5 separate regions of the Homo sapiens genome follow, and regions 2, 3, 4 and 5 are each linked to region 1. Evidence: fine-mapped expression QTL. A gene starts in region 1. Each other region holds a variant in brackets. All regions are shown on one strand. Distances are between the middles of the regions.

Region 1 (5,944 bases):
ATTTGTATTTAAACTTTCATAAAGAGTTTTAATTTTGGCCTTCTGGGTATCTTACTCACAGAATAACATATACATGATAGAGGATGGAACTTGACACTAGGGAATCTGTAAGCAATATATAATGGCACCCCTTAAAACCATTTCACTGTGAGAGTCAGCAGTGTATGAAAACAACCACTGCAGAGCATCTTCTCCCTATAAAAATAATCAAATAAGATGTCACACAGGACTGCATTTTGAAGCATTATGGAAATGAAAGGCCTGTGCATGAGCTTACATATGTTATTTCCAATTTTAAAGTTTGTTTTTGTTTTTTTTTTTTGAGACGGAGTCTCGCTCTGTCGCCCAGGCCGGAGGGCAGTGGTGCAATCTCAATTCACTGCAACCTCTGCCTCCTGGATTACAGGCGTGAGCCACCACGCCCAGCCCAAAACCCCGCTAATTTTTGTATTTTTAGTGGAGACTGGGTTTCACCATGTTGGCCAGGCTGGTCTCGAACTCCTGTTCTCAGGTGTTTCACCCACCTCAGCTTCCCAAAGTGCTGGGATTACAGGCATGAGCCACTGCACCCTGCCCAATTTGAAAGCATTTTAAATGTTAACCTGTATCAAACGCATTTGATTCCCTCTAGGTAAGGGGACAGCAGATAAATAATGACCACTTTCCAGATAAAGAAACTGAGATTCAAGCGGTAACTGGCTTATTACTGGCAAGTCTACTAAAGTAGTCACAATGAAAATTTAAGAAAAATGAAAAACTTCGTATTTTTAAGATTTTTTTTTGAAATGGAGTCTTGCTCTTTTGCCCAGGCTGGAGTGCAATGGCACAATCTCGGTTCACTGCAATCTCCCCCTCCCAGATTGAAGCGATTCTCCTGCCTCAGCCTCCGGAGTAGCTGGGATTACAAGCACGCGACACCACGCCCAGCTAATTTTTGTATTTTTAGTAGAGACAGAGTTTCACCATGTTGGTCAGGTTGGTCTCCAACTCCTGACCTAGTGATCCGCCCGCCTCGACCTCCCGAAGTGCTGGGATTACAGGCGTGAGCCACCGCGCCCGGCCTTTAAGAATTCTTTTTAAGAAGCAAAGCAAGGAATTAAGTGTACTGGCTCAATGTATCAAGTTTCTAGGAATTCAAACTATCCTCATTCTATAGTTAGTTCTGAGACCTACCTTAGTTCTTGAAGGTCAATAATGGATCACACTGGAAACTGGTATTGCTGCAAAGAATTTTTTGGTCTCATTTAACAGTAAAAGAGGCGTATGAAGTTGTTTTATGTATTTTCACACAGAACACATAACATCCATTTCCCACATCAGGGAATACTGGTTACTTCACAAAGCCAGTGTGACTGGAAAGAGGAGCGGGGAAACAATCCGATAAACCCCAGATTCCTCAAGAACAGACTGAAAGATGTGACTTGTGCTCAGATACCAGTACCAGCTAAAAAGATTTACTGAAGTGAATTAAAGGAGATGAGGGTTTTCAAGGGGGTAGAGTAAATATGGAAGAACAAGAGAATGGGACGTCAGAGTAAATCCCTTTTATCAGTCTGGATTTCCCTCAACTCGGTAAAACGAAGGACATGAATTGCTGTCCTATGTTCCGCCTCTAAAAATTACACAAAAGTTAAGAAAACACAGATTTTCTTCACTAAATTACGATACTAAACTGTTAAGGTGGCAAATCCAGACCAAGTAAGTACTTTAAGCAATGGTTAGTTTAAAATATATTTAGGACTTTTACTAGCCCACTGGAGAAAAAAATATGAACATTTTTGTAAACTTCAGATGCTTTCGGGCAGCGTCCTAAACTGATGATGACACCTTGATACTTTTAAGTTGCTAAGGAGTCTCAAAGATTATGACCTTGCTCTGCCAGCTGAGAGCAGTGTGGCCTTAAATAATATTCCTTAGCTGAGAAATACCACTAGCTCTCTGCAGTACCTCAGGATGGAAGGAGACAACATGCACAAAAGTGCTTGGTCAACTGTCAAGCGTTACACCAATGAAAGATGTTCAAATGCACCTCAAATTTCTCAACATTTTCCAAAGCCAACCAAAACCCTTAGCTTCTTTGTAATAGAGACGATGAATTACTAGGTAAGAAATGAGCACCCAGAGATAGAAGTTCAAATAATGTTTTGAAGAATGCAAGGTCATGCCAGAGAAAACAAACTATATTCCTCAAACTAAAATCAATGCTACAAGATGTTGGGTCATCACTGCTTTTATAAGCCCATTAGAAATGTAATTAGACTTGCAAGGCACTGATACTCCCCTCCAAGGTTGTCTAAAGAAGTAAGCAACTCCAGCCATTAGTAAGCACTATTTTAAAAGTACCTGCTGGTAGTTGCACAGTTACCTTAAAAAAAAAAAAAAAAAAAAAAAAAAAAGGCTGAAATCTACCATTGGAGCTATCCAAATTCAACCAACATGGAAGCGCCGGAAGCGAAACCTGATCCTGGCATATAGCTGCGCTGAGTAAAAAATGCCTCCAATTGAGTATGAGAAAAAAGCCTAGAAGGAAATCTAGGTGCACACCGGTGCTTCTCCAACACGTGGGCGCACCTAACTGGATTCCCCACCCCCATCTAACGCCAATAGCACCAACCTCCAAGGCTAACACACACACCCTTAGAAGAATACAGGCACAGGGCCCACACTCTAGAAAGGGAAGAGACAACCTAAAAGGACATAAGTGCGCAACACAGGCGCGTTAAAAAGCTTCCCATCTGGGTTCTAGCGCACGCATTGAAGGCGCGCCCGTCTCTACTACCCTCGTGTCTCCTACCGCGCACGCGCACCGCTGCCTTCCCCCGCCCCTCCACCAACTCGCGCTCGCGTTCCAACTGCTCCCCCCCACCACACTTACTCCCCTACCCCCCACTCCGGTCCGCTACAGCCTCGCGCCTTGGAGACGTAGTCTAATGTGCACTCGTCCGCGCAGCAACCGCCTCCTTCCTTCCTCCACGCCTTCACGCGGGCACGGTGATTCACGTCTACGAAAAGGCCTCGCACCACCCGCACACCTTTCTGCGCCTCCTTCCCCAATTCAAGCCAGAGTCTACCATTACTGCCTATTCCAATCTCGCGCAGAAAGGGTGAAAAGAGTGTGAGGGGGAGGGGAAGGTGTCCTTCCCCTCCCCCCCAAACATCCAGAGGCAGTAACCTAACAGGGCCACGCCGCCAGCCTGCCGCAGCCCTCAATTCAGAAAGGAACCAGTGCCAGCAATTCCCCGACTTCAGGAAATCAGTGGATCACGCTCGGAGGGGGGTTTCAGAGCCCAGTCCTTGGCCGCGCTCGGCTGCTCGCTCACCTGAGGCCGCCATGTTGGGAGAGGGAAAGAGAACGCAAAAGACCCGGATGAGGCAATCACGTGATTATAGCGGGCGCGTCGAGCTAGGAGACGCGAAGCTGGGAGGGGGCGGGGAGGTGAGGACGGAGACAGGAGGCGGGGCGGCGCTGCTCTAGGTTCGTAAAGCTGCGCGGCGAGGTGGCACGCCGTCCGACGGGAAGACATGCGCGACATGTGGCCAAAGGGGCGGGGCCTGGGTTGTCGCGAAACCCCTCACGCTTTACGTAGGGCTACACGCGAGCGCGGGGCTGGAGCTGAGTCCTGGCCGGCCTCCTGACGCACAGACTTCCTGCCGGAAGAGTGGCGGGAAGGGCGGGGCTTCGCTGCTGCTTCTGCTTACTCTGCACGGAGCCGGTGATGGGTGTGGCGAAATGGATGTGCTGAAAGGGAAGATTCTGAGTTTAATGTACTTTTTTGAGACGGAGTTTCGCTCCTGTTGTCCGGGCTGGAGTGCAATGGCGTGCGCGACCTCGGCTCATTGCAACCCCCGCCTCTCGGGTTCAGGCGATTCACCTGCCTCAGCCTCTGGAGTAGCTGGGATTACAGGCGCCCACCACCATTCGCTGCTAGTTTTTTGTATTTTTAGTAGAAACGGGATATTTCACCATATTGGCCATGCTGGTCTTGAACTCCTGGTCTCAGGCTATCCACCCGCCTCGGCCTCCCAAAGTGCTGGATTATAGGCGTGAGCCACCGCGCCCGGCCTAGTTTTTAAAAGCCACATCAGAAATCACTGATTTTATTTTTATTTATTTTTATTTTTTGAGACGGGGTCTCGCCCTGTCTCCCAAGCTGGAGTGCAGTGGCGCGATCTCGGCTCACTGCAGCCTCAACCTCCGGGGCTCAAGCAGTTCTTCCACCTCAGCCTCCTGAGTAGCTGGGACCACAGGCGAGTGCCTCCAGGACCAGCTAATTAAAAAAAAGTCTTTGTGTGGAGACAGAGTGGCGGGCTTGGGGGGGGCGGTGTGTCTCCCTGTGTCGCCTGGGCTGGTCTCGAACTCCTGGACTCAAGCATTCCTCCCTCCGAGGCCTCCCACAGTGCCGGGATTACAGGCATCAACCACTGTTTGTTTTCAAATTACTTTTTGTAAAGGCAAAACAAATCGAACGTCTTGTGTAAGAATGGTTTTAATGAGGCATATTTAGACGGAATAAGAAGGTAACAAATGCTGAACACTTAATTGTCATGGGCTTTTACCTCATTTAATGGTCCAATTTGCTGACTAGGTTTAGTCCAACTTAGGCCTTTAGGATTTCTGAGACTAGGGCTATTCATGCTTCCCCTAGCTGATGTTCCATTTCATTCATTAAATGAAAATTTTTGTTTCCCACCGTGTGCCAGGCACAGACACTTGCGGGTACAACATGGAATAGAACTGTCCCAAAAGAGGTTATATTCTAGTGGGGGAAGGACAGATAATAAGCAACTAATAAAATATTACAACAAGTATTCTGTGAGTAATTAAAACAAGGTGGTGTAATAAGTTATTAGGTGCAACTTTAGATTGCCTGTCAGAGTAGACCTCTGAGGAAGTGACATTCAGACAGAGGTCTAAATTACAAGCTGCCATCCCTGGGAATGTCTTCTGAAGAGGTTTAGGAGAAGACAGGATGCGCAGTTGGGTTTGCTGCAATATGGTGAGGGCAGGGGAGGGAGGAGTGGTACAGGATGAATCTTGAGAGAGAGGGGCTGGATCATGTGAGGCTGATCATGTGAGGGGATTGGGAAAGTGTGGAATGATTTAAGGCAGAGAAATGTCATGAGTTGAAATAAAATTTTAAAAAGGATTACTTAGTATCCTGATGTGAGTGGTGGTTACATGGGTGTATATCTAGAATTCGTATACTTAAGATTTGTGAATACTTAAGATTTGTGTACTTTATGTAAGTCACGCGTTAATTAGAAAAAAAGAGATTACTCAGGCTACTGAATGGAGAGTGCAATTGTCAGAGGTGTTTGAACCGGAGCAACTCCTTGAATAGGGCTGGGTAAAATAAGTCTGAGACCTACTGGGCTGCATTCCCAGAATGTTAGGCATTCTTAATCACAGGATGAGACAGGAGGTCAACACAAGTTATAGGTCACAAAGACCTTGCTCATAAAACAGCATGCAGTAAAGAAGCCAGCCAAATCCCATCAAAACCAAGATGGCGACTAAATTGACCTCTCCTCACTGCTTATTATATGCTAAATATAATTCGTTAGCATGGTAAAAGATACTCCCACCAGGACATGACAGTTTACAGATGCCATGGCAATGTGAGGAAGGGGGAGGAACCCTCAGTTCGGGAATCGCCCTCCTCTTTCCAGGGAAAACATGAATAATCCACCCCGTGTTTCCCATATAATCAAGAAATAACGGTAAGTATTCTTAGTCAAGCAGCCCATGCTGCTGCTCTCTGCCTATGGAGTAGCCATTCTTTTATTCCTTTTTCTTTTCTTTTTTTTTTTTTTTTTTGATACGGAGTCTCGCTCTGGCGCCCAGGCTAGAGTGCAGTGGCGCGATCTCGGCTCACTGCAAGCTCCGCCTCCCGGATTCACGCCATTCTCCTGCCTCAGCCTCCCGAATAGCTGGGACTACAGG
Region 2 (5,944 bases), 21 kb after region 1:
TGCCTCAGCCCTCCGGAGTAGCTGGGACTACAGGGACCCACCACCACACCTGGCTCATTTTTATATTTTTAGACGGGGTTTCACCAGGTTTGCCAGGCTACTCTCGAACTCCTGACCTCAGGTGATCTCAGGTGATCCACTCACCTCGGCCTCCAAAAGTGCTGGGATTACAGGCGTGAGCCACCGCGCCCGGCCAACAACAAACATCTCTTTCTTTCTTTTTTTTTTTCTGAGACACAGTTTCGCTCTTGTCACCCAGGCTGGAGTGCAATGGCATGATCTCAGCTCACTGCAACCTCCGCTTCCTGGGTTCAAGTAATTCTCCTGCCTCAGTCTCCCAAGTAGCTGGGATTACAGGCATGTACCACCATGCTTAGCTAATTTTTGTATTTTTGTATTTTTTTTTGATGGAGTCTCGCTCTGTTGCCCAGGCCGGAGTGCAGTGGCACGATCTTGGCTCACTGCAACCTCCGCCTCCTGGGTTCAAGCGATTCTCCTGCCTCAGCCTCCCGGGTAGCTGGGACTACAGGCACCCGCCACCACACCTGGCTAATTTTTGTAGTTTTAGTAGAGACGGGGTTTCACCATGTTGGCCAGGCTGGTCTCGAACTCCTGACCTCATGATCTGCCCACCATGGCCTCCCAAAGTGCTGGGATTACAGGCGTGAGCCACTGCGCCCAACCTACAAACATTTCTTTCTTTCTTTTTTTCTTTCCCTTTTTCTTTCCTTCCTTCCTCCCTTTCTTTCTTCTCTTTCTTTTTTTTTTTTTTTTTTTTTTTCCTGAGATGGAGTCTCACTCTGTCACCCAGACTGGAGTGTAGGGGCACGATCTCGGCTCACTACAACCTCCGCCTCCCGGGTTCAAGCAACTCTCCTGCTTCAGCCTCCCAAGTAGCTGGGATTACAGGCATCTGCCACCATGCCCAGCTAATTTTTTTTTTTTTTTTTAATTTGAGACAGAGTCTTGCTCTGTCGCCCAGGCTAGAGTGCAGTGGTGCAATCTTGGCTCACTGCACCCTCTGCCTGCTGGGTTCAAGCGATTCTCCTGCCTCAGCCTCCTGAGTAAGTGGGGTTACAGCTGTGCATCTCCACGCCCAGCTAATTTTTGTATTTTTAGTAGAGATGGGGTTTCACCATGTTGGCCAGGCTGGTCTTGAACTCCTGACCTCAGGTGATCCACCCGCCTCAGCCTCCCAAAATGCTGGGATTATAGGCATGAGCCACTGCACCTGGCCTACCATCAGTTTTTTTTTTTTTTAAACTTACAGAGCTATAAGAGTCTAGTCAAAAGCAGTCAAAAATTATATTGAGCACATTGATTATATTCTTGGTATATCCAAAAATAAGAAGTTGAAGGGGCTGGGTGCAGTGGCTCATGCCTGTAATCCTAGTACTTTGGGAGGCCAAGGTGAGCAGATCACCTGAGGTCAGGAGTTCGAGACCAGCCTGGCCAACATGGTGAAACCCTGTCTCTACTAAAAATACAAAAATTAGCCAGGCATGGTGATGGGCGCCTGTAATCCCAGCTACTTGGGAGGCTGAGGCAGGAGAATCTCTTGAACCTGGGAGGTGGAGGTTGCAGTGAGCCTAGACCACGCCATTGCACTGCAGCCTGGGTAACAAGAGTAAAACTCCGTCTGAAAAAGAAAAAAGAAAAAAAAAAAAGAAGTTGAAGGACAATTGAGTCTTTGAAACAAACTATTTTTATAAAATGAGAAAGAAACAACAAAAAAACACAAAGACACAGACCACTACAAAATCAAATAACACTGAAAGTTCTCTATACAAAGCCCAGCATTCCACTAAAAAGGTACCCAGTAATCTTTAGCTCATTTTAAGATCTTTTAAAATTTTTCCAGCAAAGACTTGGTCTTAGCATTCTTTTGTATTTTGCCATCTAGCACAATATTTAGGTATTAGGTATGTTAGGTATTCAATAAGTACAGGCTGCTTGATTGGAGAATTATTGAATGATGGATTAGAAAGTGTGTGATGGATTGAAAAGCATGACCAAAATATTTTGCAGTGCCTTCATCAAAAGGTAGAGTCTATTTCCTACTTTTTGAATTTGGCATTGCCTTGTGACTTGCTTTGGCTAACAAATGTGTCAGAAGTGACAATATGTGACTTCTGGAGCCTAGACTTTGGAAGATTTTGTGACTTCCACTTTTACTCTCTTGGAACCTGCTGATACCAGGCAAGGAACCCAGGCTATTCTGCTGGAGAGCCACAGGCAGGAGAAGTGAGGTGCTTTGGCTGAGAATCCCAGCTAACTGCCAGTTATGTGAGTGAGGCCATCATAGACCATCCTGATCCATATGACTGTAGCCACTTAAGCAACTCAAAGTGAGATGAACAGAACTGCTCAGCTGAGCCCAGCTAAAATTGCAGAGTTGTGAGCTAATTATTGTTTTAAGCCTCTAAGTCTTGGAGTGGTTTTTTATGTAGTAATAGCTAAATTGACATAGTGCTGTCTGTGCAGTCACAGAATGTCAGCTGGAGGCAGAAGACAAGTGTTTCTTCTTTGGAGAGATACACTGTCTACCACGATTGAATTTTCTGCCTCGGCTGTCCTGTGTCCCAAATGGGTTGGGAGCCCTGTGCTGCTCCCTGAAAGAAGTGTCATTACTTGAGTATGTGGCTTGGCCCCAAACCTTCTAGGTGGTTGTGCAGCCAATTTGATGGGCTTATTACCTGTACTGGGCTTGAAGCTTGTAGAGAAATGGAAGTCAACCCTCTTCCAAAGAAGAGAGGCAGAAGGCCAGTCACGGTGGTTCACACCTGTAATCCCAGCACTTTGGGAGGCCGAGGCGGGTGGATTACCTGAGGTCAGGAGTTCGAGACCAGCCTGGCCAACATGGTGAAACCCTGTCTATACTAAAAATATAAAATTAGCCGGGCATGGTGGTGCATGCCTGTAATCCCAGCTACTTGGGAGGCTGAGGCAGGGAATTGCTTGAACCTGGGAGGCGAGGTTGCAGTAAGCTGAGATCGTACCATTGCACTCCAGCTTGGGCAACAAGAGCGAAACCCCGATACACACACAAAAAAGAAGAGAGGCAGAAGGCCGGGCACAGTGGTTCACACCTGTAGTCCCAGTGCTTTTGGAGGCCAAGGCAGGAGTATGGTTTGAACTCAGGAATTTGAGACCAGCCATAGTGAGATCCCAATCTCTACAGAAACCAACCAACGAACAAAAACAAATTAGCTAGGCATGGTGGCATGTGCCTGTGGTCCCGGTGCTTTGGGAGGCCAAGGGGGAGGATCCCTTGAGCCCAGGAGTTTGAGACCAGCCTGGGAAATATGGTGAGATTCCATGTCTACAAAAAATAAAAAATTAGTTTGGTGTGGTGGTGCACACCTGTAGTCTCAGCTACTCAGGAGGCTGAGGTGGGAGGATCATTTGGCCCTGGGATGTCAAGT[G/A]TGCAGTGAGTGGTGACTGTGCCACTGCACTACAGCAAGGGTGACAGAGCGAGACCCTGTCTAAAAAAAGAAAGAAAGGCACTGGGCGCGGTGGCTCACGCCTGTAATCCCAGCACTTTGGGAGACTGAGGCGGGTGGATCACGAGGTCAGGAGATTGAGACCACCCTGGCTAACACGGTAAAACCCCCGTCTCTACTAAAAATACAAAAAATAGCTGGGTGTGGTGGCACGTGCCTACAGTCCCAGCTACTTGGGAGGCTGAGGCAGGAGAATCACTTGAACCCAGGAGGTGGAGGTTGCAGTGAGCTGAGGTCGCGCCACTGCACTCCACCCTGGGTGACAGAGCAAGACTCTGTCTCAAAAAAAAAAAAAAAAAAAAAAGAAGAAAGGCAGTGAACAAGCAACACTTTTCAAGGAACTGAACAAGGACGCATGTGCTCAAGTTAAAGTATCTGTAAAGTATCTGAACATGGACACGTGTGCTCCAAGGAAAGTACAAAGTTAACCCTATACTAAATATCTGTCCTCACCCCTCCTTGAATCTGTATGACATCTTTACTCTCCAATCATCTTTCTACTTGGCTTGTTTAAATCTCAATATAGCCTAGTGAGAAAGAAAGGCAAGTGAGGAAATCAAGAGATTTGCTCAACATCACACAGCAGCTTAATCATGGTGCAGATCCCAGGCCTCCTGCTGTAGCACCCAGTGGCCCAGTGCTGACTACTGCCCCTAGCAGGTTCCATGGGCAACTCCTGCCCTCTGAGGACTCTCAGTCCAGGATGCATACCCAGGATGTATGTGTGAAGCAGGATGATGTTAGGGTGGCAATGCAGTGTCAAGGACAAGATCTGATATCATCTCTGTTAGCTCCATCAGGCCCGTGATCTCAGGACAGCCACTCAACCTCTCTAAGCCTCAGTTTCCTCATTTGTAAAATTAGGTTAAAATGATATCCACCTATACGTTGAAAAACTGTAAATAATGGTTGCCTCTGGAGTGGGTTGTGGGGCTGGGTGCTGGGTAGGAGGAAGACTTTCTTTTCATTGTATATCTTTATACTGCTCAATTTTATAATCATAGGGCAGATATTATTAATTCACTGATAATACTAATTAAAATACAAAAACTGCTGGTGCGATGGCTCATGCCTGTATTCCCAGCACTTTGGGGGGCCAAGGCGGGCAGAATACCTGAGGTTGGGAGTTCAAGACCAGCCTGCTCAACATGGTGAAACCCCGTCTCTACTAAAAATACAAAATTAGCCAGGCGTGGTGGCACATGCCTGTAATCCCAGCTACTCCAGAGGCTGAGGCAGGAGAATCTCCTGAACCCTGGAGGTGGAGGTTGTGGTGACCCAAGATTGTGCCATTGCACTCCAGCCGGGGCAACAAGAGTGAAACTCTGTCTCAAAAAAAAAAAAACCAAAAAAACAAAAACAAACAAACAAACAAAAAAAACTAGCCAGGCATGGTGGCATGTACCTGTAATCCCAGCTACTCAGGAGGCTGAGGCAGGAGAATCACTTGAACTGGGGAGGCAGAGGTTACAGTGAGCCAAGATTTTGCCACTGCACTCCAGCCTGGGTGACAGAGGGAGACTCTGCCTCAAAAAATAAAATAAAATAAAATAGATAAAATATAAAATAAAATAAAATTCGTTACGGACTAAACATCCGTTCTTGCCTGACTCAGGGTGGAATCCTCCTACCCTCCTACCTTTGTTATGCTACTGCCTTCCTTACAAACCCCTGTTAAAGATCAAGTGGAATAATATTTTTAAGGGTCTCAAATTCAAATACTGTCAGGGTTCAGATAGGCAAGTGTGCGAAGTGGTGTAGGTCACTGGGAGTGGTGCAGACTATGGAAGATTGAGGAGTGCATGCCCTGGCTAGAGGTGTTCACATGCAATTTTTATCCAGGGAGTGAACTGACAGTTTGTGATACTCAACAACAAATAAATAATTCAAACTTGGATCTGGTCTGACTTCAAAGCTTTTTCTACTATGTCATTTGGTCTTGTCCGAAACCCTAGTTCCCTTTTTCTTTTTTTTGAGACAGAGTCTCACTCTGTTGCCCAGGCCGGAGTGCAGTGGTGCGATCTCAACTCACTGCAACCTCCGCCTCCTGGGTTCAAGCGATTCTCCTGCCTCGTCTCCTGAGTAGCTGGGACTATAGGCGTGCGCCACTATGCCTGGCAAATTTTTGTATTTTTAGTAGAGATGGGGTTTCACTGTGTTGGCCAGGCTGGTCTCGAACTCCTGACTTTGTGATCCGCCCACCTTGGCCTCCCAAAGTACTGGGATTACAGGCCTGAGCCACTGTACCCAGCCTCTCTTTTTTTTTTTTCCTTGAGATGGAGTCTCACTCTATCACCCAGGCTGGAGTGCAATGGTGCAATCTGGGCTCACTGCAATCTCTACCTCCCGGGTTCAAGCAATTCTCCTGCCTCAACCTCCTGAGAAGCTGGGATTACAGGCACCTGCCACCACGCCTGGCTAATTTTTGTATTTTTTTAGTA
Region 3 (5,944 bases), 23 kb before region 1:
TTTTTGACCATCATTAAACTACTGGATGAAAGTATCTTGCTCCGAAATCTGCATGTTAAGAACTAATACAATATGATAGGGAAGATTCTAGTTCTTTATTTTTTTTGAGACAGTCTCGCTCTGTCACCCAGGCTGGAGGGCAGTGGTGTGATCTCAACTCACTGCAACCTCTGCCTCCCTGATTTTCCTGCCTCAGCTTCCTCAGTAGCTGGGAGTATAGGCACGTGGCACCATGCCCAACTAATTTTTGTATTTTTAGTAGAGATGGGGCTTCACCATGTTGGCCAGGCTGGTCTTGAACTCCCGACCTCAAGTGATCCGCTTGCCTTGGCTTCCCAAAGTGCTGTTACAGATGTGAGCCACCACGCCCAGCCAGGAAGACTCTAGATCTTATACCCTTGTCTCTGTGTATAATATAAATTTGGCAGGTGGTTCATGGGGCAAAGCATGTAACACTGAACAAATAAACTCTTAAGGCAGGCAGTCTGATTTCTTCCTCAATTCAAGTTGTCAGAACACTTTCAAGAGAAACCTAAGTGTTTCAAGGAAGTTAAATTTCTAAAAATGATTGTTTGTCCTAAATATTTTGGATATACAAAAGATACAGAGAATATAAAGAAAGCCTATGTATACAATCACCTGGCTTAAGTAATGTAACCTTAACAAAGAGGTAAAACCTCCTGATGACATGACCAGCTGTACTCTGTCCTCTAAATAACCACTAGATGGTGACTTCATCATGCCCACACTTGATTTTATACTTTTACTACATATGCACATAGTACCTGTAGATAGAGGGTACTGTTTAACAAGATCTAAATTTTCTACGAGGGCTTTAAGCCGACAGTTTATATATGTTCCTAAACATATTTTAAATCTGTGTTATAGCCCCGTCACTTTTGTAAGATAAAATAGGGGCTCAGAAAAAGTAGCTCATTTAAGATATTAATAAAAGAACGCAGCCGGGCACAGTGGCTCACGCCTGTAATCCCAGCACTTTGGTAGGCCGAGGGCAAGTGGATCACTTGAACTTGGAAGTTTAAAACCAGCCTGGGCAATGTGGAGAAACCCCATCTTTAGAAAAAATATCAAAATTAGCCAGGCATATGGCACGCACCTCTAGTCCCAGCTACTGGGGAGGATGAGGAAGGAGGATCACTTGAGCTCAGAAGGCTGAGGCTACAGTTAACCATGATTATGTCACAGCAATTCTAGCCTGGGCGACAGAGTGAGATCCTGTCTCAAGAAGAAAAAAGTAAAGGCTGGGCAAACAGTGAAGGCCCGTGTATGTCAGAGGTATAGAGAAAGGGCTATGTTCCAGGCCATGGGGAAACTAGACAGGTCTAAACAGGAGAATAAGGTAATTAGATCTTATGCCAGAAAGACAACTGACAACTGGGGCCAATGTGAAGAACGGAGCAAGAAAGGGAACTCTGTTAGGAGGCAATGGCCAGTAACGTGGGTGCAGCAATGAGGCCTCAACGAAGGTAGCAGCAGCAACTAGAGACAAGAGGGCAAATCTTAGAGGGAATGGGGGGGTAAGAGCAAGAAGAGAAATAAAAAATTAGGTATGCAGCTCTTGGTGGGGAGGTAAGGGACAGTGTGAGAGAGGAAAAGGTCAGAAGTCAAGGAGAACATGAGGCCCACATCTGAGCCTCCACTTTTCTAACTTGTAATTTTACCTATACCACACAGAAGTCTTAGAATTAAACAATACTTGTACAAGCCCTCAGCTCACTGATGGAACAGAGTAAATGGTTAATAAATGTTAGCTATTATTTTTAGGCTTCTTGCTTGAGGAAATCGCTTTTAAGAACGTAGTTTTTTCACTGGGCGCAGTGGCCCACGCCTGTAATCCCAGCACTTTGGGAGGCCGAGGCGGGCGAATCACAAGGTCAAGAGATCCAGACCATCCTGGCCAACATGGTGCAACCCCGTCTCTACTAAAAATACAAAAATTAGCCGGGCGTGGTGGCAAGCCCAGCTACTTGGGAAGCTGAGGCAGGAGAATCACTTGAACCTGGGAGGCAGAGGTTGCAGTGAGCCGAGATCGCGCCATTGCACTCTAGCCTGGGCAACTAGAGAGAGACTCCGTCTCAAAAAAAAAAAAAAAAAAAAAAAAAGAATATAATTTTTTAAAACCTATTTCCTATTTTATTATTTTTTAGATGGGGTCTCACTATGTTGCCCAAGCTGAAATGAGACCTTGGCTAACTGCAGCCTTGACCTCCCAGGCTCAAGCGACCCTCCTACCTCAGTCTCCTAAGACACGGGGACTACAGGCACATGCTACCACGCTCAGCTAACTTTTATATTTTTTGCAGAGATGGGGTCTCACTATGTTGCCCAAGCTGAAATGAGACCTTGGCTAACTGCAGCCTTGACCTCCCAGGCTCAAGCGACCCTCCTACCTCAGTCTCCTAAGACACGGGGACTACAGGCACATGCTACCACGCTCAGCTAACTTTTGTATTTTTTGCAGAGATGGGGTCTCACTATGTTGCCAGGGCTTGTCTTGAACTCCTGGACTCAAGTGATCCTCCTGCCTTGGCCTCTCAAAGTGCTGGAATCACAAATGTGAGCCACCATGGCTGGCCTAAGTTTTTTTTAAAAAAAACAAACATTGAATTATTATTATTATTTTGAGGAAGGAGTAAAGACTTCACCATTTTCTGAGGGAGAAGGAAAGACCTCACTGCAATAGAATTGCCATATGGCTCTGATGAATTCTGTCATCTCACTGTGTTTTATTAGTTGTCCAGATCGATTTTCCTTTCTTGGGGAATCACAGGAGATGATGGATATAAAGCCATTG[C/G]CACAAAGTTTAGGACTAACACAAAGATGTTAAAGATAGGAAAAATTTGGCCGGGCACGGTGGCTCATGCCTGTAATCCCAACACTTTGGGAGGCCAAGGCAGGCGGATCACGAGGTCAAGAGATTGAGACCAGCCTGGCCAACATGGTGAAACCCTGTCTCTACTAAAACTACAAAAATTAGCTGGGCATGGTGGCGTGCACCTGTAGTCCCAGCTACTCGGGAGGCTGAGGCAAGAGAATTGCTTGAACCTAGGACGCAAAGGTTGCAGTGAGCTGAGATCATGCCACTGCACTCCAGCCTGGCAACAAACAGAGCAAGACTCCGTCTCAAAAAAAAAAAAATAAAATAAAAAAAGGATAGAAAAAATTCTGGGCCAGATACCATAACCTTTTATATGACATCACTGAAGTTAGAACACAAATGGTGGCCATTTATTAGTATTTTATAACAGGTTAGATTTGTAACACAGTTTACATTTTATATCTTATAGTATTAGGGGCATAATTTTAGAATAGGTGCACCAAAATCTCACCTTTATAATTAATGAACATCAATTATTGTGGTATAATGGTACAGAAAGCAATCCTTTTTTTTTTTTGAGACAGTCTCACTGTCGCCCAGGCTGGAGTGCAGTGGTGCGATCTCAGCTCGCTGCAACCTCTGCCTCTGGGCTCAAGCAATTCTCCTGCCTCAGCCACCCGAGTAGCTGGGATGATAGGTATGTGCCACTACGGCCACCTAATTTTTGTATTTTTAGTACAGACGGGGTTTCACCATGTTGGCTAGGCTGGTCTCGAACTCTTGACCTCAAATGATCTGCCCACCTTGGCCTTCCAAAGTGCTGAGATTACAGGTGTGAGCCACTGCACCTGGCCTTAATGCTTCGTTTTTAACCCCATAGTACCAATTATGGGCTACAGGACTATGTTTAATCTGAATTTCATTTCCCTTACTTGGAAAATGGAGCTAAAACCATCTGTTTTAAGTGTAATTTACTGAGATCACAACATAACAGTATCTGGCAACTTTTTTTTCCATTTCTACTGTTTATTCAATAAATTTTAACTGAAAAATCTATCTGTGAAGGCATATGAGATGAAAACAATTCGACTGCTGTGTTTCCACTGATGTCATCCTTAGCCAATGCTTTTTTTTTTTTTTTGAGATGGGGAGTCTCACTCTGTCACCCAGGCTGGAGTGCAGCGGCGCCATCTCCACTCACTGCAAGCTCTGCCTCCCGGGTTCCCACCATTCTTCTCTCTCAGCCTCCCTAGTAGCTGGGACTACAGGTGTCTGCCACCACACCTGGTAGAGACGGGGTTTCACCATTAGCCAGGATGGTCTCGATCTCCTGACCTTGTGATCTGCCCACACCTGGCCAGCCAATGCTCTTTCTACTATGCTTTGCTGCTTCCTGTACAATGTGCAAATTATATTTGTGCCCAACTCAGTAGTTCGTAACACAATCACAAATTTTCCGTAGTTTTCCCAGTTTCTGCTCCATGAAGTACGTAAAAAGAAAACTATTACCTCTATCATCACGCCTATAATCATCCCGAGAGTAATCATCTCTGGAGCTCCACGACCGATCATCCCGTCTGTCATATCGGTCTTCATAGCGGTCCCCGCCTCCTCTGTAGTCATCATCCCTGCGATACCCACTGCCAAATGCTCTTCTGCCACTGCCTATCCGGGAATCATAGCCTGTAAATATATCCCAAATTATAATCATCACAGCGGAGGGGGAAAAAAAAAAGGCAAAGTTACTGAAAGAGCAATTCGACATGTTTTACAATTACCTCTATCATAGTCTCTGCTGCCTCGGTCATCATAGCGATCCCGGCCACCATATCGATCCATATCCCGGCGTGGGCCATCCCGATACCCATCCCGATACCCATCCCGATACCGGTCTGAATCATAACGATCTCGATACTCTAGAGGAAACAGACAAGTAACACCATCCCCTTTTCTCTGACACCATTAATAGAAACACGGTAAGCTATCAGTCCAATTTGGAAGAATCTGTTTATTTAAATTTTCTATCTGATTTCTTCAAAAAGTTTCCCTGGTGAAATAATTGTTGCTCAGCTAATAATTTGGGAAGGGTGGGTTGGAAATTAAAAAATCCCTAAATATTCCATAATGAATTTCCAGAAGGAGAAGAGGTTTACATGCAAAAACAAAAAACAAAACAAAGCACAAGACACTAAAACAATACAGTTGGGAATCTCCCATGTTTGATCCCAAAGACCACTTATTTTTTAATTAAAAAAATTTTTTTAGCTGGTCACGGTGGCTCATGCCTGTAATCCCAGCAGCACTTTGGGAGCCCGAGGTGGGCAGATCACGAGTTCAAGAGATCGAGACCATCCTGGCCAACATGGTGAAACCCCGTCTCTACTAAGGATACAAAAATTAGCTGGGCGTGGTGACGCACACCTGCAGTCCCAGCTACTTGGGAGGATGAGACAAGAGAATGGTGTGAACCCGGGAGGCGGAGGTTGCGCTGAGATCATGCCCCCGCACTCCAGCCTGGCGAGAGAGTGAGACTATGTCTCAAAAAAAAAAAAAAAAAAAATTTTTTTTTTTTTTGAGAGACAGTCTCTCTCTGCTGCCCAGGCTGGTCTTGGACTCCCGGGCTTAAGCAATCCTCCAGCCTTGGTCTCCCAAAGTGCTGGGATTATAGGCCTGAGCCGTAACACCCAGCCTCAAAGATCACTTTAAGAGGCAAACAAAATGAGAAACAATATATGCAACATATGACTAACAGGACATAATTTTCTATTGAATTTTAGGAGCTTAAATCAATTTCTGCACTGCTGATCATAATTTTAAATGGTACAAATACACTTTGGGAGGTTGAGGTTGGTGGATTGCCTGAGCTCAGGGGTTTGAGACCAGCCTGGGCAACATGGTGAAACCACAACTCTATCAAATATACAAAAAATTAGCCGGGCATGGTGGTGCAGGCCTGTGGTCCCAGCTACTTGGGAGGATGAGGTGGAAGGATCACTTGAGCCAGGGAGGCAGAGGTTGCAATGATCCAAGATTGTGCCAAGGCACTCCAGCCTGGGTGACAGAGTGAGACTTCCTCTCAAAATAAATAAATAAATCAATAAATTA
Region 4 (5,944 bases), 76 kb before region 1:
AGCCTCCCGAGTAGCTAGGATTACAAGTGCACACCACCACACCCGGCTAATTTTTGTATTTTTAGTAGAGACGGGGTTTCACCATGTTGGTCAGGCTGGTCTCGAACTCCTGACCTTGTGATCTGCTCACCTTGGCCTCTCAAAGTGCTGGGATTACAGGCGTGAGCCACTGTGCCCGGCTGCTTATTTATGTTTGTACAATTCTCATGATGTTCCATTACCATCTCCACTTTGTAGATAAGAAGACGTATCCAAATAAGTTAAATATCTTGCCAAAGGCCACACAGCTAGATGGCAGAATCCACTAGATTCCAAGTTCAAAACTCTTTTCACTGAAACACGAAAACTTTCCTTTTTCTTTTTTCTTCAACTTCCAAGTTCAGAGGTACACGTGCAAGATGTGCAGGTTTGTTACATAGGTAAACAAGTGTGCCATGGTGGTTTGCGGCACGGAGCATCCCATCATCTAGGTATTATGCCCAGCATCCATTAGCTATTTTTCCTGATGCTCTCCCTCCCCTCAACCCCACAAAAAATTTCATAATGTAAAAAGACATCAAGGGTGCGGATAAGTTAAATACAGACTTGTTTGCTAAATTCTCTAAATACTCAATCTGTGTGCAATTTCTAGGGCAAGAGAAAGATTGCTTTAAGGCAAATAAAAAGAATGATTGCCTTATGTTGGGGATGTGGTAGGGAATAAAAACAAGAAATATATTATTATAACAAACAGCACAAGCTGAAAAAGAAAAAAGTTAGAAACAAGTTAATAAAATAATAGATAAAAGATTTCTGGCAAGTCATGAAAAGACTAGATTTCCTCTCTTTCCTCTTCCTGAGCTATGAGAATACCCCAAGCCTAAGTCTGGGTTCTTTCCAAAAACAACCTGGGGCTGTTTGAGGGCTGGGTCTTATCCTTTTGGGCAGGCCAGCTATGCACTCCTAGAGCCTATCTGTGGCACAGCTGTTGAAGAAGTATCTTGGGCTCTGAACAAAATATCAAATATAGTAAATATTTTTTTCCTTTCCTAAAATTTTGAGCTGAGGGCCTATAATTTAATATTAAACAGCCAGAGTACATTTAGGAAGATAGCAATTAAATTTCATACATCAAAATCAAGTATATGGAGAGTCAATATATAGAAATCAATTGTACTTTTATATACTAGCAATAATTTTTATATACTGGAAATTGAAATTTTAAAATAACATTAACCAAATTGTAAAAAATATGAAATACTTAAGGATAAACCTGACAAATATCTACACTCTAAAAACCATGAAATATTGCTGAGACAAATTTAAAAAGATGTAAATAAATGGGGAGATATACCATGTTCATGGATCAGAAGATATATTGTTAAAGATATATTGTTAAAATGTCTATTCTTCCAAAATTGAGCAATAGATTCAATGTAATACCAATTAAAATCCCCAGGGGCTTTTTTTTTTTTTTTTGAGACGAAGTTTAGCTCTTGTTGCCCAGGCTGGAGGTCAATGGCTTGATCTCGGCTCACTGCAACCTCCACTTCCCAGGTTCAAGTGATTCTCCTGCCTCAGCCTCCTGAGTAGCTGGGATTACAGGCATAATGCACCACCATGCCCAGCTAATTTAGTATTTTTAGTAGAGGTGGGGTTTCTCCATGTTGGTCAGGCTGGTCTCGAACTCCCAACCTCAGGTGATCTGCCTGTCTCAGCCTCCCAAAGTGCTGGGATTACAGGTGTGAGCCACTGTGCCAGGCCGCCAGGGGCTTTTTCAATAGAAATTGGCAAGCTGATTATCTCACATGGAAATGCAAAACAGAAAGTTGGAGGACTTATATTACCTGATTTCAAGACTTATTATAAAGCTATAGTAACAAATACATACAGATAGAGGAGCCAGGCACTATGGCTCACACCTGTAATCCCAACAGTTGGTGGGGGCTAAGGCAGGTGGATCACTGAGCCCAGGAGTTTAAGATCAGGTCTGAACAACATGGTGAAACCCTGTCTCTGCAAAAAATATAAAAATTAGCCAGCTGTGGTGGTGTCCACCTGTAGTCCTAGCTACTCAGGAGGCTGAGATGAGAGGACTGCTTGAGCCCAGGAGGTGGAGGTTGCAGTGAGCTGAGATCGCAACACTACACTCCAGTCTGGGCAATAGAATGAGACCCTAAATTATATAATTATAGACTTAAATGCAAACCTAACACATAGAACTTTTTTTTGTTGTTTGTTTTTTGAGAGGGAGTCTTGCTCTGTCACCCACGCTGAAGTACAATGTCACGATCTCGGCTCACTGCAACCTCCGCCTCCCAGGTTCAAGCGATTCTCCTGTCTCAGCCTCCCTAATAGCTGGGATCACAGGTGTGTGCCATCACACCTGGCTAATTTTTTATATTTTAGTAGAGACAGGGTTTCACCATGTTGGTCAGGCTGGTCTCAAACCTGAGCTCAAGCAATCCACCCACCTCTGCCTCCCAAAGTGCTAGGATTACAGGCGTGAGCCACCATGCCCAGCCCGTTTTTTTTTTTTTTTAGAGGGAATTTCACTCTTGTTGCCCAGGCTGGAGTGCAATGGTGCAATCTCGGCTCACCGCAACCTCAGCCCCCTTGGTTCAAGCGATTCTCCTGCCTCAGCCTCCCGAGTAGCTGGGATTACAGGCATGCGCCACCACGCCTGGATAATTTTGTATTTTTAGTAGAGATGGGGTTTCTCCATATTGGTCAGGTTGGTGTCGAACTCCCGACCT[T/C]GACCTCAGGTGATCTGCCCACCTCGGCCTCCCAAAGTACTGGGATTACAGTTGTGAGCCACTGCACCCGGCAGAACTTTTTTTTTTTTTTGAGGTAGGGTCTCACTCTGTTGTCCAGGCTGGAGTGCAGTGGCAGCACAACCATGGCTCACTGCAACCTCTGCCTCCTGGGCTCAAGTGATCCTGCCATCTTAGCCTCCCAAGAAGCTAGGATTACAAGTGTGTGCCAACAGACTGGCTAATTTTTAAATTTTCTGTAGAGACCAGGTCTCACTGTATTGCCAGGGCTGGTGTTGAACCCCTGGGTTTGAGCAATTCTCCCTGCCTTGGCCTCCCAAAGCACTGGAATTACAGGTGTGAGCCACCATGCCCAGCCTGAACAACTCCGTTAAAAACATGAGAAGACAAGCTGCAGACTAGAAGAAAATATTTGTAAAGCACATATCTGATAAAGAATTTGAATCTAGAATATATAAAGACTTTCAAAATGCAATAAGAAACAATTTTTTGAAATGAGCAAGTGATTTAATCAGATACTTCACCAGAGAAGATATATGGATGACAAATAAGCATATGAAAAGATGCTCAACCTCGTTAGTCATTAGGGAAATGGAAATCAAAAGTGAAATGAGATACCACTTCACACTAAGTGGCTATAATCAAAAAGAGATAATAACAAGTGTTGTTGAGTATGTAGACAAATTGGAACCCTCATACACTGTGATACCTACCTATTAGGAAGGCTGAAAGTAAAAAGAATAACCATACCAAGTGATGGCAAGGATGTGGAACAACTAGAACACTCACACACTGCTGATAGGAATGTAAAATGATACAACTACTTCTGAAAACAGTGTGATGCTTTTTAACCAATTAAGAACCGTACATCTACCATGTGACTGAGCCATTCACTCCTAGATATTTACTTAAGAGAAAATGACACTTTGGGAGGCCAAGGTGGGCAGATCACGTGAGGTCAGGAGTTCTGGACCAGCCTGGCCAATACGGTGAAACCCCATCTCTACTAAAAATACAAAAAAAAAAAAATTAGCCAGGCGTGGTGGCACATGCCTGTAGTCCCAGCTACTTGAGAGGCTGAGGCACAAGAATCACTTGAACCTGGATGGTGGAGGTTGCAGTGAGCCAAGATCATGCCACTGCCCTCTAGCCTGGGTGACAGGGTGAGACTCCATCTCAATAAAAAGAAAAAGAAGATGAAATATGTCCATACAAAGACTTGTACATGAATATTCATCATAGCTTTATTTGTAATAGCCAAAAACTGAAAAAATCCAAATGTCCATCAACAAGTGAATAAATAAATTGTAATATATTCCAACAATAGCATACTATTCAGCAATAAAAAGGAACAATCGAGAGGCCAAGGTGGGAGGATCACTTGAGGCCAGGAGTTTGAAGTTGCAATAAGCCTTGATCACGCCATTGCTCTCCAGCCTGGGCAACAGAGCAAGACCCTGCCCCAAATAAATAAATAAATAAAAACTATTAACACAAACAACAATATGGATGAATCTCTCAAGGTAATTACGCTGAACAAAAGAAGCCAGACACATCCCTCCTCAAAGAGGATTTACTGTATGATTCCACTTACATAAAATTCTAGGAAATGCTAACTAAGATAGTGACAAAAAGGCAGATTAGTGGGCTGGGCGCGGTGGCTCATGCTTGTAATCCCAGCACTTTGGGAGGCTGAGGCAGGAGTTCAAGACCAGCCTGGCCAACATAGTGAAACTCCGTCTCTACTAAAAATACAAAAATTAGCCAGGCGTGGTGGCGGGCATCTATAATCCCAGCTACTTGGGAAACTGAGGCAGGAGAATCCCTTCAACCCGGGAGGTGGAGGTTGTAGTGAGCCAAGATTGCCCCATTGCTCTCCAGCCTGGGCGACAGAGTGAGACTCTGTCTCAAAAAAAAAAGTTTCAAAAAGCAGATTAGTGGTTCCTAGGGATGAAAGAGTGAGAGAGAGGGATTATAAAGGAGCATGAGGAAATTTTTAGGGATGATGATGATATGGTCACTATCTTGGGTGTGGTGACATTTTCATTTTCATAGGTATATAAGTAGCTTATCAAATTGTATACCTTGGCTAGGTGCAGTGGCTCATACCTGTAATCCTCGAACTTTGGGAGGCTGAGGTGGGAGGGTTGCTTGAGCTCAGGAGTTTGAGACTAGCCTGGGCAACACAGTGAGACTTCGTCTCTAATTAAAAAAAGAAAGGAATAAATTGTACACCTTAAATATATATGGTTTATTGTATGTCGGTTATATGGCAATAAAGTTGTTTATTCAAATACATGTAGACACCAAACACAAATTACCAACTGGGTCCTGAGCATGCCAATGGATGGAGAATTCGCCAAAAAGGTGAGCCCCACATCTGGAACTTAAAGGTGAGGAAATCCCGAGTGGAATCACCAACCATCAGTAACAGTTTGGAAATGCCTTCTTCTGCCATTTCTCTCCATGTCTGACCCTAGCCACCTAGCTAGTTAGTTTCTGGAATGAGCCCTGGTCTGGGATGAACATGACTCTGGCAGCCTCCTAAGATTGTCCCTCTCTGGCTGCCTTTGGGAAGAGCTGAGCTCAGTGTTGAGGTATTTTCATAACACAAGAAGAGGAGCGGAGGAGAAGCAATGAGGGAATCAAAAGGAGGTGGAGATGAGTTGGAAGGGTAGCTATTCAGAACTGAGTCATCCAGGGGCTGGAAGGGAGCTAAAAGAACACATACTTCAATAATTCTTGTTTAGGGATGAGAACACCAAGACCTTGACCTTTTAGTCACACAGAATTGGGGCTCTAATCCGGGTTTCTCTGTTTCCCATCTCATCTATTCCTATCACCCATTGCCGTTATGCCGAGTGGGCACTATTCACGGTATGCGAGCTGATGGCTTTCCTGGCACTCAACACGTTAGAGTACCTAGTGTGATAAGAATAGAATAGTCTGGGGTCTGAAGGAGCTCACAGTCTAGCAGAGACGGGTCTACACACACAAGTAACTCCAATAACGAAAGCAAGACGGTAATAAGTGTTATAAATGGCGGGGGGCGGTGGCTCACGCCTGTAATCCCAACACTTTGGGAGGCCGAGGTGGGCGGATCAAGAGGTCAGGAGATCGAGACCATCCTGGCTAACACGGTGAAACCCCGTCTCTACCAAAAATACAAAAAAAATTAGCTTGGCGTGGTG
Region 5 (5,944 bases), 38 kb before region 1:
CGGGCCCCCTCTCTCTCCGAAGTCTTGGGTTTGTTTGGAGAAACCCCTCCACCCACACCCCCCTTTCTGGAAATAGCTGTGGTTGGAAGGGAGGCTGGGAGCCCGGCCGCCGCGGAGGAGGGGTAAGGCCCAGGGAAGGAGCGAGGGAGGGCGGCGGCTCTGGGGGTGTTCCCAGAAGGGTCTGGAGGATGGGGGCAGACTGGAGGGGGCCGCAGAGCGGGGCTGGCGAGTCGAATCAGCCTCATCTGTGCCCGCTTACGGCCTCTGTCCCACATGTGAAGCAGGAAAGGAAAACGTTCGCCCGCACCCTGCCAGGCCGGGGCCCGAGCGCCGCTGCCAGCTGCTGCCGGGTCCCGGGCCTGCGTGTGTGGCACGGCGTGCGGCCCCGTGCGCCCCGGGTGCTGGAAGGCGTGGCGGCCTGATCGAGTAGGGCCGCGGCCGCGCCCCGCCCCCTAGTCACTGTCCCGGCCTCCCGCTGCTCCCAGCTCTCCGCGGCCAGCCAGAGCCCCCGGCCCCAGCCCTGGGCCGCGCCCCGCGCCCCGCGCCCTCTCGACCTCCGGCGGCCCCGCGCCCCCTGGCGCCCGCCCCTGGCACTGCCCGCGCGGCCGTGACGCAGAGACCGCCGCCCGCCCAGCGCGGCGCGGCCACTCACCTGCGGGGGGCGCCCGGCCGGGCGGGGGCGCGGCGGGGCGGGGCAGCAGCAGGGGGAGCCGCCGGGCCAGCCCATCCCGCCCGTGCCCGCGCCGAGCGGACGCGGAGGAGGAGGCGGTGGCAGTGGCGGGAGCGGGCGGCCGGGCTCGGCTGGGCTCCCTCCCGCCCCCGCCGCGCCCCGCGCCCGCGCCCGCGCCCGTGGCAGCCCGCTCCTCCTCCTCCTCCCTCCCGGCTCCAATCCCCACGTTCCGCCAGCTCCCCACCCCTCGGCCTCCTCTCCTCCCCACCTTCTCCCGCGAACCCACACTCACAAAGAGCCGAGGGGAGAGAGGGTGCGCAGACGGCCAGCCGGGCCGCGCCAGGGACATACTGGAGACAGGAAGTGGCTGAGAGGGGGAGAGAGTTGGAGAGAGACGGCCGCGGAGGACACGGGGACGGGAAAGTCTGAGAGACGGGGAGAGCCTGACCCGGCGGGACACAGGCAGAAAGAAACACGCGAGCCAGACAGACGCAGAAGAAACGGTGGGCGTAGGTCTAGAAGGGACTAGGAACAAGGGGACAGGGAACTGCCGCGCAGCGTCAGCCTCTTACCCTCCCCACAGGAGTGTGCCTGGGCTTGGGCCTGACCTGAGAGGACCACCCGTGGCTTAGCCTGGTGGTGCTAGCGTCCCCTACCCAGGCGGGCGCCTGAATCAGGTGAAGACACCTGGTGTTACTTTTGGCCCAAGTCATTGGACACCCTTCCCTGGTCCTCTGCCCCACAGGAGACTTCTCCTGGGCTAGTATTCTCAAAGGATTCACAGCTGGGGACCTTTCCGTCAGGCTCAAGCCCCCATCTCCACCCGCAAGCAGCTCCAGCCATCCCATCCACTGCCCTGCTTTATTCATTGAGACGGGAGTCTGTCTCTGTCGCCCAGGCTGGAGTGCAGTGGCGCCATCTCGGCTCACTGCAACCTCTGCCTCCCAGGCTCAAGCGATCCTCCCACCTCAGCCTCCCGAGTAGCTGGGACTACAAGATGGGCGCCGCCACGCCCAGCTAATTTTTTGTAGAGATGGGTTTTCGCCATGTTGCCCAGGCTGGTCTCCAATTCTTGAGCTCAAGCGATTTCCCCTTCTTGGCCTCCCAAAGTGCTGGGATTACAGACGTGAGCCACCGTGCCCGGCCCATTGCCCTATTTTAAAGAGCTGGACCGTCATTCCCAGTTCGCAGGAGACCTCTGAGAAGGTCTTCCTTACATTTAACTTGAGTCCAGCCTTTCCAAATGGAGATGGAAGTTCTTTCTATGGTCTGACCTCATTCCCTTCTTTTGCAGTGCCTGGTACTGGATAGGAACTTCATGGAATGGAGCTAATGGGCCGTAGGGCAGGTTTGAGTCGTGCCACCCTGGAGCAGAAGGTGGAGGGTAGGGATAAGGTAGGGGACATCTTCCTAGAAGTTCTGAACCTGTTGCCATTCCTACATTCCCCCAACGTCCTTTAGCAGTGAGCACTTCCTGAAACTTTCTCCCTCCTTCACCCTCCCTGCTGGATTTTCCATGATGAAAAGGGGCGGGGGGAAGGAAGGTTGGAATTCTGAGAACCCAGTGCCCAGGGCTCAATGCCCAGTGCTTGCCCAAAGTAGCCAGTACCACTGGCTCTAAGGCCTTCTTTCCCTCCCCGTCTCATCTCAACTGGGTCCCTTGTCTTTGGCAAAGGCTGAGAAGTCTGGTTCTCATTTCCAGGGGGTGGAGCACCTGATTCCAATCTTGCCACAGGGAAGAAGAGTCTGTGAAGAAGTGCGTGATGACTGTGTGTCCCCCCCCACCCAGAAATTGGCATTTGGGAGGGGTGGATATGGTTGGGACTGGGGAGCCTTGATCTTACTGCTCTTGGTTGAGTTGGTGTCCAATAGACAGTTTCAGAGGTTAGAGCAGTGGGAGTCACTGGGGACTGGGGACAGGAGAGGTGGGGGTGGGGGAAGCCAGGCGGGAATGAGTAGGGAGGCACTGGGAGGAGGGGAGAGGCAAGAGTTAGGGGAATACCGAGGAAAGTGGCAGGGATTGGAGGCTCCTGGAGAAAGGGCAAGGCTGAAGGTTGTCCCATGTATTTTGGCCAGATTTGATTATGTAATCGAGAATCATGAGATAATT[AAGTG/G]TGTTCATGTCTCTGGAGCCTTCAACCAGCTCTTTTAACATCTTGCTCTTCCCAGCATTCCTTAGGGTCTTTGGCTGGGCTCTGGGATGGATGCCATGGGAGTACCTTTACTTAAGCTCTAAAGTTACCAATGGAGAGACTGGGACTCAAAGAGGAACTTGATTGGACCCCAGAGAGGTGAGGGGTAAGGGCTAGAACCTCACACATGCTGGTTTTGCTGCTGCCTGGCAGGCCCATGGGAAGAACTTTAGAGGTTCCAAGGAATTGGAAAAGGGTCACAAGATGGGTGGCCAAACTCCCAGCTCAGGCTTGATTCCTACTCTCAATGTGGGGATAGTGGAGAAGGGGGCTGCAGGAAGGGCTGAGAAAAGCTGAGAATGAGAAGTTATACAGGAGGTAGCTTGGTGGGAGTGAAACAAAAATGAGTGGTTCATGGGCCAGCCAGGCATCCTGATTTCCAGCTCACAGCAGCAGGAGCTTCAGAGAGGAAGAAGGAGAGGAGGAGAAAGCCAGGTTGATGTTAGTAAAGGTCAAACAATTTCAGGAGCACCTCTGACCTCCCTCCACACAGGTTTTCTTACCTTGACTATGCAGAGGGTGGTCCATCTTGGCACTGAAGATGGAACCCCCTCTTCCATGGTCTGGGGTGACCCCATGCCTGTAACTGAATGTGCTCAGATCCTTGGGGTGCGGGGACTGTAGGGGGAGGATTTGAAGGTGTGGGACTGTCCTGGCTGGAGACCACTGGGTCAGGAGAACTCCAGTAGAGGGTTTGGGTGCTGGGAACCAGGAAGAGTGGGGGAAGGGGCAGAGCCAACTCCAGAGGCGGATCTCCTGGCTGAGGACAGAGGGTGTATTGTCCAAGCTGGAGGTTGCTGTAGCTGGGCGGGGAGCAGCTCAGCTCGTCTCTTCCAAATTTCTTTTGGGGGAGGGTAAGGGAAGGCAAGCCCCCCTTTACTTGTGGCCCTGGGGGCTACAATGGTTGCTGAGAAACAAGGCTTATTTGACAAATAATGCTTCCCAGGAGCAGATGTGTAGCTCTCTCACTTCCTGAGAAACCAGATGCTGTGAGCTCGCTTAGCACTTGAGGCGACGCCCTCAGCACGAACTGGGACCCTAGTGCCTTGGGATCCGGAGTATAGTGCTTGATTCTATTGAGAAGAAACGAGGCTAATGTGGACTGGGAGACACACGGGACCTAATCAGCCTCAAGTTAGCCCTTTTGAAGTAGGTTGCTGCACCTGCACTTTCCCCCTACTCGTCCACTAGTTCAAGATTTACAAGACGTTGACAATGAGGGCTGACCAGTCCTGGGTCCACTCCTGCAGCTGGGGGGCTTCTCGGTGGACCCACACTTTTTTTTTGAGACAGGGTCTTGCTCTGTTGCCCAGGCTGGAGTGTAGTGGTGTGATCACAGCTCACTGCAGCCTTGACCTCCTGGGTTCAAGTGATCCTTCCTCCCAAGTAGCTGCAACTATGGGCATACACCACCATACCTGGATAATTTTTCTATTTTTTTGTAGAGACAGGGTCTTGCCATGTTGCCCTGACTAGTCTCAAACTTCTAGGCTCAAGCGATTCTCCTGCCTCATCCTCCCAAAGTGCTGGGATTACAGGTGTGAGCAACCATTGAGACAAGAGTCTCGCTCTGTCACCCAGGCCGGAGTGCAGTGGTGCGATCCCGGTCCACTGCAACCTCCACTTCCCGGGTTCAAGCGATTCTTCTGCCTCAGCCTCCTGAGTAGCTGGGACTACAGGTGTACACCACCATGCCTAGCTAATTTTTGTATTTTTAGTAGAGACGGGGTTTCACCCTATTAGCCAGGCTGGTCTAGAACTCCTGACCACATGATGTGCCCGCCTTGGCCTCCCAAAGTGCTGGGATTACAGCTGTGAGCCATGGCACCTGGCCACACACGTCTTTTTAAATTTAAATGAGGATGTGGCCATATTACAGCCCAGGTTTTCTCTGACTTTAGAGTACCTTTTGGGACATAGGGCCTTCCTCTCTACCCTTTCTGTACACAGCCATCATAAACCTCTTTCAACAAGCCTTTCCTATTTTTATGTTCCTTCTTTCCATCATTTACCTAGACCTCATTATTGCACAGCTGAGAGTGGCTTGAAACAAAGGCTTGGAGAATGTGAGTGAAACTGATTCCTGTGGTGGAGAGGCAGTGAAAAAGCATTACCTTGTAGGTTTCCAGGCAGCCTGGACAATAGGGGCACCTAAACCCACATTGAAAAGCCTTCACATCATCACAGCTGAGTCTCATAGCCTTCAACTTTACCAGTTTTGGAGAACAGAGATAAATGCACTGGCCAGAAACTAGAAGAGCAGCTGCTCCAATTGGCTGGGAAATCATTTAACTGGCTCCTCATCTTGGCTCTTAAATCCCCAAAATTGTTGACTGAGGTTTCCCGGGCTCCTTTCTATGCTCCACCTCCTTGTGACCTTAAGGATTCTCTGCCACTGTCCTAACCCCTTTCCCGCCTTGCAACAATGACCAGTCTGTCCCTAGCTGTTTGGAAAATTCCCACTGAGTCTGTGAGCCTCTGTTCTGGTAACCTCGACCAGCCTGTCACCAGTATCTCTGGTCCACCAGTGCGGTGTAACTCAAGGGAGCAGCATCTCTCCAGATTGCTGAAGTGAGGGAGGGAGATTATGAGGGAACTGCCCCAAGGACACAAGGATTCATTCTTAGAGTTCCCACATCTTGATTAAAATAAACAGTACAGGAAATAGACTGCAGGCACATCCAGGTGATTAAAAAATTTAACACCAGGCAAAAAAAAAAAAAAAAAAAAAAAAAAAAGCCAGAGGGGAGCTAGGATGCAAACTCTATTATTGGGCCTCAATAAACACTGAAATAGATTCCCTTGTAACCCCACCCTCTAATCTTGGACAATATGGTATCCAATACTGAATGAAAACTTCAGAGATGGTAGGAGGAGGAGGAGCAGGTGGTCAATGACTACAGTAAAAACCACTGGGAGTGCAGAGTATTTGTCAAAGAACTTCAGCATTACAATGAACTTTAAAGATCAGATTTATTTGGAGAAAACAAAAAACCCACAACCCAAAGGATGGGATTTTACATCAAGACATCTCCCAGGTAATAAGTCTACAGATTACAAATCATTTTCATAGAAGATATTT

Evidence for each region. PIP is the estimated chance that this variant, and not a neighbour inherited with it, causes the effect.
Region 2: its variant is fine-mapped to the expression of EIF4B in whole blood (TOPMed, PIP above 0.99).
Region 3: its variant is fine-mapped to the expression of EIF4B in whole blood (INTERVAL, PIP 0.93).
Region 4: its variant is fine-mapped to the expression of EIF4B in whole blood (INTERVAL, PIP 0.94).
Region 5: its variant is fine-mapped to the expression of EIF4B in whole blood (TOPMed, PIP 0.99).

The regions. Positions count from the first base shown.
Region 1 is chr12:53,003,873-53,009,816 of GRCh38, reverse strand. EIF4B (eukaryotic translation initiation factor 4B) reads right to left here and starts at 3,361. Exons shown (of 15, transcript NM_001417.7): 1 at 3,321-3,361. The coding sequence starts at 3,333. RefSeq lists enhancers at 2,503-3,246, 3,247-3,990.
Region 2 is chr12:52,982,524-52,988,467 of GRCh38, reverse strand. No RefSeq gene overlaps it. Among named protein-coding and RNA genes, the nearest start is that of EIF4B, 21 kb to the left of the region's middle. The variant G/A (reference allele first, on the strand shown) is at 3,426.
Region 3 is chr12:53,026,593-53,032,536 of GRCh38, reverse strand. EIF4B (eukaryotic translation initiation factor 4B) reads right to left here. Exons shown (of 15, transcript NM_001417.7): 7 at 4,618-4,755; 8 at 4,349-4,522. Among named protein-coding and RNA genes, the nearest start is that of TNS2, 20 kb to the left of the region's middle. The variant C/G (reference allele first, on the strand shown) is at 2,816.
Region 4 is chr12:53,080,358-53,086,301 of GRCh38, reverse strand. No RefSeq gene overlaps it. Among named protein-coding and RNA genes, the nearest start is that of SPRYD3, 3.9 kb to the right of the region's middle. The variant T/C (reference allele first, on the strand shown) is at 2,736.
Region 5 is chr12:53,042,082-53,048,025 of GRCh38, reverse strand. TNS2-AS1 (TNS2 antisense RNA 1) reads left to right here. Exons shown (of 4, transcript NR_033854.1): 3 at 1,965-2,065; 4 at 2,373-4,837. EIF4B (eukaryotic translation initiation factor 4B) reads right to left here. Exons shown (of 15, transcript NM_001417.7): 15 at 5,811-5,944. It also overlaps a transcript of TNS2 not described here. Among named protein-coding and RNA genes, the nearest start is that of TNS2, 5.0 kb to the left of the region's middle. RefSeq lists enhancers at 1-645, 1,343-1,392, 1,473-1,662 and silencers at 103-692, 763-832. The variant AAGTG/G (reference allele first, on the strand shown) is at 2,781.